3 separate regions of the Homo sapiens genome follow, and regions 2 and 3 are each linked to region 1. Evidence: fine-mapped expression QTL. A gene starts in region 1. Each other region holds a variant in brackets. All regions are shown on one strand. Distances are between the middles of the regions. Region 1 holds the start of TRIM16 (tripartite motif containing 16). Region 2 overlaps TRIM16 (tripartite motif containing 16). Region 3 overlaps TRIM16 (tripartite motif containing 16).

Region 1 (2,757 bases):
AAGAAGTGATTGTTTCATCATATGTGTATAAATCAGTGTAGAGCTGGGTGCGGTGGCTCACGCCTGTAATCCCAGCACTTTGGGAGGCTGAGATGGGCAGATAGCTTGAGTTCATTCAGGAGTTCCAGACCAGCCTGGCCAAAATGGTGAAACCCTGTCTCTACTAAAAATACAAAAATTAGCCTGGCATGGCAGCACATGCCTGTAATCTCAGCTATTCCGGAGGCTGTGGCAGGAGAATCCCTTGAACGCGGGAGGCAGAGGTTGCCATGAGCCAAGATCTCACCACTGCACTCCAGCTGACAGAGCAAGACTCTGTCAAAAAAAAGAAAGAAAAGAAAGAAAAAGAAAGAAAGAAAGAAAGAAAGAAAGAAAGAAAGAAAGAAAGAAAGAAAGATGTAGAAACACATGAAACATGAAAAAGCAAGGAGCACAACACCTCCAGAAGAACACAATAATTTCCAGTAACAGATGCCAATCATAAGAAAAAATACAAAGTTCTGGCTGGGCGCGGTGGCTCACGCCTGTAATCCTGGCACTTTGGGAGGCTGAGGCGGGCAGATCATGAGGTCAGGAGATCAAGACCATCCTGGCTAACACGGTGAAATGCTGTCTCTACTAAAAATACAAAAAAAAAAAAAAAAAATTAGCTGGGTGTGGTGGTGGGCGCCTGTAGTCCCAGCTACTCAGGAGGCTGAGGCAGGAGAATGGCGTGAACCCGGGAGGCAGAGCTTGCAGTAAGCCTAGAGATGATTGCGCCACTGCACTCCAGCCTGGGCGACAGAACGAGACTCTGTCTCAAAAAAAAAAAGAAAATATACAAAGTTCCAGAAAAAGAATTTAAAATAATAATCTTAAGGAAACAGTGGAATTCAAGAGCATACAGTTACACAATTCAATGAAATCAAGAAAATTCATAATTTGAATGAGGAATTTAACAGAGATATAAAAAAGAACCACACAGAAAACTTAGAACTGAAGAATCCAATGAATTAAATGAAAAATACAATCAAGACTCTAACAACAGACTAGATCAAGCATAAGAAACAATTTTTGGGCCAGGCGTGGTGGCTGACGCCTGTAATCCCAGCACTTTGGGAGGCCAAGGTGAGTGGATCACCTGAGGTCAGGAGTTCGAGGTCAGCCTAGCCAATATGGTGAAACCCTGGTCTCTACTAAAATTATTAAAAAAATTAGTTGGGCATGGTGGCGGGCGCCTGTAATCCCAGCTACTCGGGAGTCTGAGGAGGAGAATCGCTTGAACCCGGGAGGCGGAGGTTGCAGTGAGCCGAGATCGCGCCACTGCACTCCAGTCTGACGACAGAGCGAGACTCGGTCTCAAAGAAAAAAAAATTTCCGCTCTATAACTTCACTTTTAACATTGTTTAGTTTTTCTGTTTTGTTTTTGTTTTGAGAGAGAATCTCGCTCTGTCGCCCGGGCCGCTCCGGACTACATTTCCCAGGAGCCTCGGCGCGCACTTCCGTTTCCGGCCCCTTTCTCTGGAGGATCTCCGCGCGTGGCGAGTCTGTGTCCTCCCTGTCCCCCAGAGCAGACACCCTCTCTGTGTCTGGACCGGGGAGGAGCAGACGCTGGACAGGGTGTGTGTGTTCAGCAGTGGATTGTCAGACTTGGGGTCCCGGCTGCTCCCTTTTGGGTCTCTCCCCGGGCCCGCTGATCTGACTGTAATTCCTTCTGCTGGAGCTAGGGTTCGGCCACCTTGACGCGCCCCCTCTGCCCCTGGAGCGTGTCTTTGGGTTTTGTGTGTGTGGGAGTGGGGTGTATGTGTGTTTCTTATCCGAGACACCTCTGGGTCGTTTGCTTGGAAACCGGCTGAGGGCCCGCATACCCTGGAGCATTTGGTTGCAAAGTGAGGCAGGTAGCGCCCAAGGCTCCTGTACCAGGGCCAGGTTAGGCACCAACGCGTCCCTTATGTCTCTGCAGCCTGCAGTGTGGTGGAACCGTTTCATAGACTGAAGTGTGAACGTAGGAGGGGATGGATATCAGAGATCTGTTTATCCACATTTTCAGAGAGTGGTATTGCTCTGATGTGAGCGTAGGCAGGTTACTCTCTGTGTCTCGTGTTCTTTACCTGTAATTTGAGGTTTGTTGTACCTACTATTAAGTGGTGGTTGTGAGGATTAAATGGAATTTTGACATGCAACAGTTGACACAGGGCCAGACACCAAGTAAGGGATCAATCAGTTGTTGCTTTTATTAATAGTAGGCATCCATCTGCCCATTTGCACGTAAGAAGGAAACACCCAAGAATGAAAAGTAGCTTGTTGTAGGTCACCCAGCCAACTAGCACATAGTGGAAATTAGAATCCAGGCACTCCCAGCAGGGCACTTTCCACCACCCTGCACTTTTGTATTCATCAGGCACAGTATCCTTACTGTTGTCTGTAACTGTCTATGTTCCCAGTGTCTGACTCTGCAGGGCCCTAGTGGTATAAAGGTACTGAGACTTGCCTGTGTTCAGGGCTTCCTGAAGATTAAATGGCTGCCGAAGTTCTTGAGTTTAGCTTTAGCTCAAAAGATACTGCGTCAGACTCTGCGTTCTGAGTAGAGTCTCAGAGAATGAAAAAAGAAATACAATGAAAAAGGGGAAAACTTCAATCCAGAACCTCTTACCACAGTTTCTGGTAGAATGCTGGCAATTTCCAGGAAGATACGTGGAGAACGGAAAGGTTGCTACACCCAAATAGTGAAGCAAAGGCTATGATTATGGAGGATTGGACCTGCAAACTCCAGAACAG
Region 2 (2,757 bases), 38 kb after region 1:
CTTGTCCTAGATCTTTGGAGAACATTAATGCCAGGCCACGATGCTGAACCTCAGCATCAGTCCCAGAAAGTTCAGGACTGGATGCTGGCTGCAGACACAGTCTCCATGGTGAGCAAGAGCCAAGTATCTAGAGCCAAAAGTATCCACGCTCATCTGGGGAGCGGTTAACTGGCATCACTCACAGCCTGTTTGCTGGCAGCCGAAAGGTGGATGATAGGTGTATGTGGCCACTTGGGAAAGGAATTACTTGGGCCGGGCGCGGTGGCTCACGCCTGTAATCCCAGCACTTTGGCAGGCCGAGGCGGGTGGATCACCTGAGGTCAGGAGTTTGAGACCAGCCTGACCCATGGTGAAACCTTGTCTCTACTAAAAAAAAAAAATACAAAAATTAGCCTGGCACAGTAGCAGGCGCCTATAATCCCAACTACTCAGGAGGCTGAGGCAGGAGAATCGCTTGAACCTGGGAGGTGGAGGTTGCAGTGAACCGAGATCGCGCCATTGCACTCCAGCCTGGGTGACAGAGCAAGACTCCATCTCAAAAAAAAAAAAAAAGAATTTATTTCAGCCATTTTGGGGAATGCCCAGGACTCAGTATTACGTAACTTGTTTTTCTTATTCTCCCAGGCTGTAAGTATTTTGAGAGGGGGCAGTGTGTGTCCTATGTGACTGAGCTGGCCATATGTACTATGGTGAATTCTGAGCAGCTGACCGAGGCATGCAGTCAGCGTCCAGGTGGACTCTAGTTCTTCCTTCTCTAGAAAGGCTAACCCTGTGTGCTTGGAATACAAAGGAACTGGCACAGTCTGGGATTTTCTTCTCTCTTCCCACTCTCCCTGTTCTTTCTATTTTTCATCTCTAACATGACCTGGCTGCCACTCTTTGTGTGCCACCTTTGCCCTGTAGCAGAAGGAACCCTTCTGTTAGCATATTTAGGTAGTCTTGCACCAGATGAGAAGCTAAATGGCTTGAATGACTTGACAAAGCCTATATGGCCAGCAAGTGGCAGGTCCCAAAATATTTCGGACTCCAAATAGTGTGCCTTTGACACATCTGTCATTGTCTTGCTGAAGCAGGCAGAGCTCTGTGTGCCCTGCCTTCCAGAACTTTCTGTGCTCATGGGCACCACAGTCCCGCTTCTGGGCAGGGCCCACCCTGACCTGAGATGTGTGTGTGGCTGACCTCTTGGGAAACCCTGAAGCCAGTGTCTGAGGCACCCCATCATTTTCAAGGAACAGGAATAACTGGAGAAACAAGTCTTTCAAAGTGG[T/C]TCCACCTTTTGAGGTAACTGGGAGTGCCTTTTCTTGGGGTGACTCAGTCAGGAAAGTCCCCGATTATGTACTTAAGGAGTCCTTTTCTCTCCTTTTATGGTAGTCTGCAAATAGCAGAGAGAAGCCCCTCACTCTCGATGCTCCCTGGGTACCTCCCTATGGCCCCGCTGCTGCCGACTGCTTCAACACATTCTTCTGTCCCTGCTGTTTAGATGCCGTGTTGTAGGAGCCTGTTGCTAGGGTGTGTTCTGATGTGTCTTCCACCACCTTTAAACAAGCAGCTCATGTTCCTTTTCTCTCCCCTGGAATGGGTCACTGTGTAAGCCTTTTTCATAGTTCAAGATTCCAGGATTGCCCCCAAATAGGCCAGATCCACCCCCACTCCCCACTCCCAGGCATCACGTCTCAGGTATCAAGGGTGAGAGGTCACTGGGGCCCCCTCAGCTCCACTCTCAGTGACCTGGAGCCTGAGCAAACATTTCCTGCCTTCTGCAGTGTCCTGGAGAGGCGAGTCCTCTGCCTGCAGCTGCTTCCCTCCCCAGGGGGCCTGGAATTCCCCCAGTCTTCAGTGGAGAATGGAGAGACAGTTTATGCTCTCTGAGTTCTATTAGGGCATAATGACTCGCAGCTTTAAATGCAGACAGAAGCTATTAAGCAGTGAAAGCGATTCTTTTTTTTTTTTCTTTTTCTTTTTGTATATTGCCCTTGTGGAAGTAGGAAAGTGACAGGGTCTTTGAGGTTTGCAAAGGCTTAAGTGCGCCTTGGCACACCTCTTGGCAGAAGGTGTTTAGTGCATCCCAGGAGGCAAGATTGAAGCTGGGGCCAAAGCAGGCAAACCTGAGGTTTTTGGGCAGGCACTTGCCTGGGCTGGGAGGGCTGGCTCTGCCTTCGAATACAGAACATGAATGGAAAGCAGCCATGGTAGCAGGAGTAATAATGATGATGATGACGATGCTGGCACCCACTGACATTTATGGAGCTCATTAATAATGTCCCTGGTACTATACAAAGTTCTTATTGACATACGTTATCTCGTTAGTCCATTCTTTCCTAATCCTATGAAGCAAACACTTTACTGAGCCCCATCTCACAGGTGAAGAAATGGAAGTTTAGAGATATTAAGTTGTGAAATAAGAAACAGGCCAGGCACGGTGGCTCATGCCTGTAATCCCAACAGTTTGGGAGGCCAAGGCAGGCGGATCACAAGGTCAGGAGTTCCAGACCAGTCTGGCCAACATAGTGAAACCCTGTCTCTACTAAAAATACAAAAATTAACCGGGTGTGGCGGTGTGTATCTGTAATCCCAGCTACTCAGGAGGCTGAGGCAGGAGAATCGCATGAACCCGGGAGGTGGAGGTTGTAGTGAGCCAAGATTGCACCATTGCACTCCAGCCTGGACGACAGTGTGAGACTCCATCTCAAAAAACAAACAAAGAACAACAACAACAACAACAAAAACTTAGGTTTGGTCTCTGCCCCCATTTCCTGG
Region 3 (2,757 bases), 33 kb after region 1:
CTCAGCATGAGGTTTGTGGGAACAAGTGTCTCAACTATAACACCATGTCTAGGAATGTTTCGTTAAGTGGGCAAAAGGGCTGTTAACCTGAAGGGAGCATTCTGTGGAAGGAGACAAGTCTTCCCTGACCCTCCTGATCTCCACTGAGTACCCACGTGATGTTCATCTCCACGAGTGTGACGGACATTACTGGAATGTTCAGGAAGATGATATGGAAAAGTCAGCATCAGAAGTATGCATCCTGGCTGGGCACAGTGGCTCATGCCTGTAATCCCAGCACATTGGGAAGCCCAGGCAGGCAGATCACCTGAGGTCAAGGGTTCGAGACCAGCCTGGCCAACATGGTGAAACACTGTCTCTACTAATAATACAAAAATGAGCCAGGCGTGGTGGTGGGTGCCTGTAATCCCAGCTACTCAGGAGGCTGAGGCAGAAGAATCACAAACCCAGGAGGCGGAGGTTGCAGTGAGCCAAGATCCCACACTGCACTCCAGCCTGGGCGACAGAGTGAGACTGTGTCTCAAAAAAAAAAAAAAAAAAAAAAAAAAGGTGGGCACCGTGGCTCACCTGTAATCCTAGCACTTTGGGAGGCCGAGGCGGGTGGATCACGAGATCAGGGGTTCAAGACCAGCCTGGCCAAGATGGTGAAACCCCGTCTCTACTAAAAATACAAAAAAAAAAAAAAGAAATTAGCCGGGCACGGTGGCAGGTGCCTGTAATCCCAGCTACTCGGGAGGCTGAGGCAGGAGAATCACTTGAACTCGGAGGGCGGAGGTTGCAGTGAGCCGAGATCACACCACTGCACTCCAGCCTGGGTGACAGAGTGAGACTCTGTCTCAAAAAAAAAAAAAAAGAAAAGAAAAGAAACATGCATCCTATTCCTAGCTGCCTCATGTCCAGTTCTATGAGATGGGAGTAGATGAATGGCTGTCCTGGTGTTGAAGTCCTTACATTTTACTTCTCTTTAAAAATGAAAACAAAAAAAAATGTCGCTTGTCAGACCACACAAAGCCACACAGGCTTATAACAGAGCTCAGGAATCTTCTGTCCTTTCCAGAGCAGGCACAGAGACACGTGGTCTTCAGCAGAGCCTATGGGGTTCAGATGATTCACATAAGAATAGAAGTTTCAGGGCTGGACCTGGGGAGGCAGCCTGAGCCTGAGCCGGCTGTCCTGAGCCTGAGTACTCTAGCTGCCTTGTCGTCATCGCATCTGGCTGCCATCCAGCGCCAGCACACAGTAATGAGTGGCCGAGCTTCCTCTGGGAGGGAGGAAACAGTTAAAATCTTGCAGCAGCTGCAATCATCTAGGCGTGGTTCTCTTGTCTGACTTGGGCTGCACAGATCCTGGGCCAAGGGACAG[A/G]AGAAAGACAGCCTAGGAGCAGAGCCTCCCAGATGGCTGAGTTGGATCTAATGGCTCCAGGGCCACTGCCCAGGGCCACTGCTCAGCCCCCAGCCCCTCTCAGCCCAGACTCTGGGTCACCCAGCCCAGATTCTGGGTCAGCCAGCCCAGTGGAAGAAGAGGACGTGGGCTCCTCGGAGAAGCTTGGCAGGGAGACGGAGGAACAGGACAGCGACTCTGCAGAGCAGGGGGATCCTGCTGGTGAGGGGAAAGAGGTCCTGTGTGACTTCTGCCTTGATGACACCAGAAGAGTGAAGGCAGTGAAGTCCTGTCTAACCTGCATGGTGAATTACTGTGAAGAGCACTTGCAGCCGCATCAGGTGAACATCAAACTGCAAAGCCACCTGCTGACCGAGCCAGTGAAGGACCACAACTGGCGATACTGCCCTGCCCACCACAGCCCACTGTCTGCCTTCTGCTGCCCTGATCAGCAGTGCATCTGCCAGGACTGTTGCCAGGAGCACAGTGGCCACACCATAGTCTCCCTGGATGCAGCCCGCAGGGACAAGGAGGTGAGTGCTTGGGGACCATTCATCCATTTGGGAGAGGGCGGTGGGGGATGGTGTGCCCAGCTGGCTGCAGCTGCTAGGTCCACTGACGCCACTACTATGCTCTGAGCATACCTGAAAAAGACTAGCTTCAGCGTCTGCCTGCTGGGTCAGTGTAAATATACATTGCACTTGGTTTTGGAAACTGTGTGGAGTAGGTTGCTCCGTCCCCATCTCTGTCCCACTGTCTCTGTGCGATCTCTGTCTGTGTCTGTCTCTCCTCCTTCTTGCTAGTTTCCTGCTGTGCCTTATACAGCTTTTGGTGATGTGTGTTTGGGTGGAGGGTGCAGAAGTTGTGGGGGCTTAGGGCGGTGATATGTCCCTGTGGCTGGATCTGCATGGCACATCCATTGTCAATTAATGAAATAAAACCTTGGCAGAAATTCAAGAGAAAAGAACAACTCTTTCTCCCAGTTTCTCTTTTTCTCAAACAAGAGACCAGTAGAATGGGCCCCTCTGGAGATAACAGGAAATCTAAGAGCTTGAAAAGTGCTAAGATAGCAGAGAATTTGAAACTTAGGTCCAGGTATAATGTCACAGGTGGCTTAGGGATAATAAAAGTTCCTCACCAGATGGAGGTATCAGGAGAGACTAAGAAACATCATGCTCATAGCCTGTCATTTTATTTCCATCGGATAAGGAAACTGTTTCTAGAACAAGTCGTTTTTCTTTGCCTAAAGCTAGATCCTGGAGAAGTTCCTGGAAATTGGTTTGGCACCTCATATGCTTTTTTCCTTCTACTTTGACTTTCAGCGAACACTTTTAGTTTTCAGTCGGGAAGTGTAGTTGACGTTTGCCCCACATTTCC

The links.
Region 2: its variant is fine-mapped to the expression of TRIM16 in whole blood (TOPMed, PIP 0.96).
Region 3: its variant is fine-mapped to the expression of TRIM16 in whole blood (TOPMed, PIP 0.98).

What each region holds. Positions count from the first base shown.
Region 1 is chr17:15,683,038-15,685,794 of GRCh38, reverse strand. TRIM16 (tripartite motif containing 16) reads left to right here and starts at 1,484. Exons shown (of 12, transcript NM_001348119.1): 1 at 1,484-1,599; 2 at 2,638-2,757.
Region 2 is chr17:15,644,765-15,647,521 of GRCh38, reverse strand. The region is part of intron 7 of TRIM16 (tripartite motif containing 16); the gene reads left to right. Among named protein-coding and RNA genes, the nearest start is that of FBXW10B, 26 kb to the right of the region's middle. RefSeq lists enhancers at 1,455-1,544, 2,359-2,757. The variant T/C (reference allele first, on the strand shown) is at 1,268.
Region 3 is chr17:15,650,247-15,653,003 of GRCh38, reverse strand. It overlaps TRIM16 (tripartite motif containing 16), which reads left to right. Exons shown (of 12, transcript NM_001348119.1): 7 at 1,058-1,913. The coding sequence starts at 1,395. Among named protein-coding and RNA genes, the nearest start is that of FBXW10B, 32 kb to the right of the region's middle. RefSeq lists an enhancer at 1,146-2,095. The variant A/G (reference allele first, on the strand shown) is at 1,363.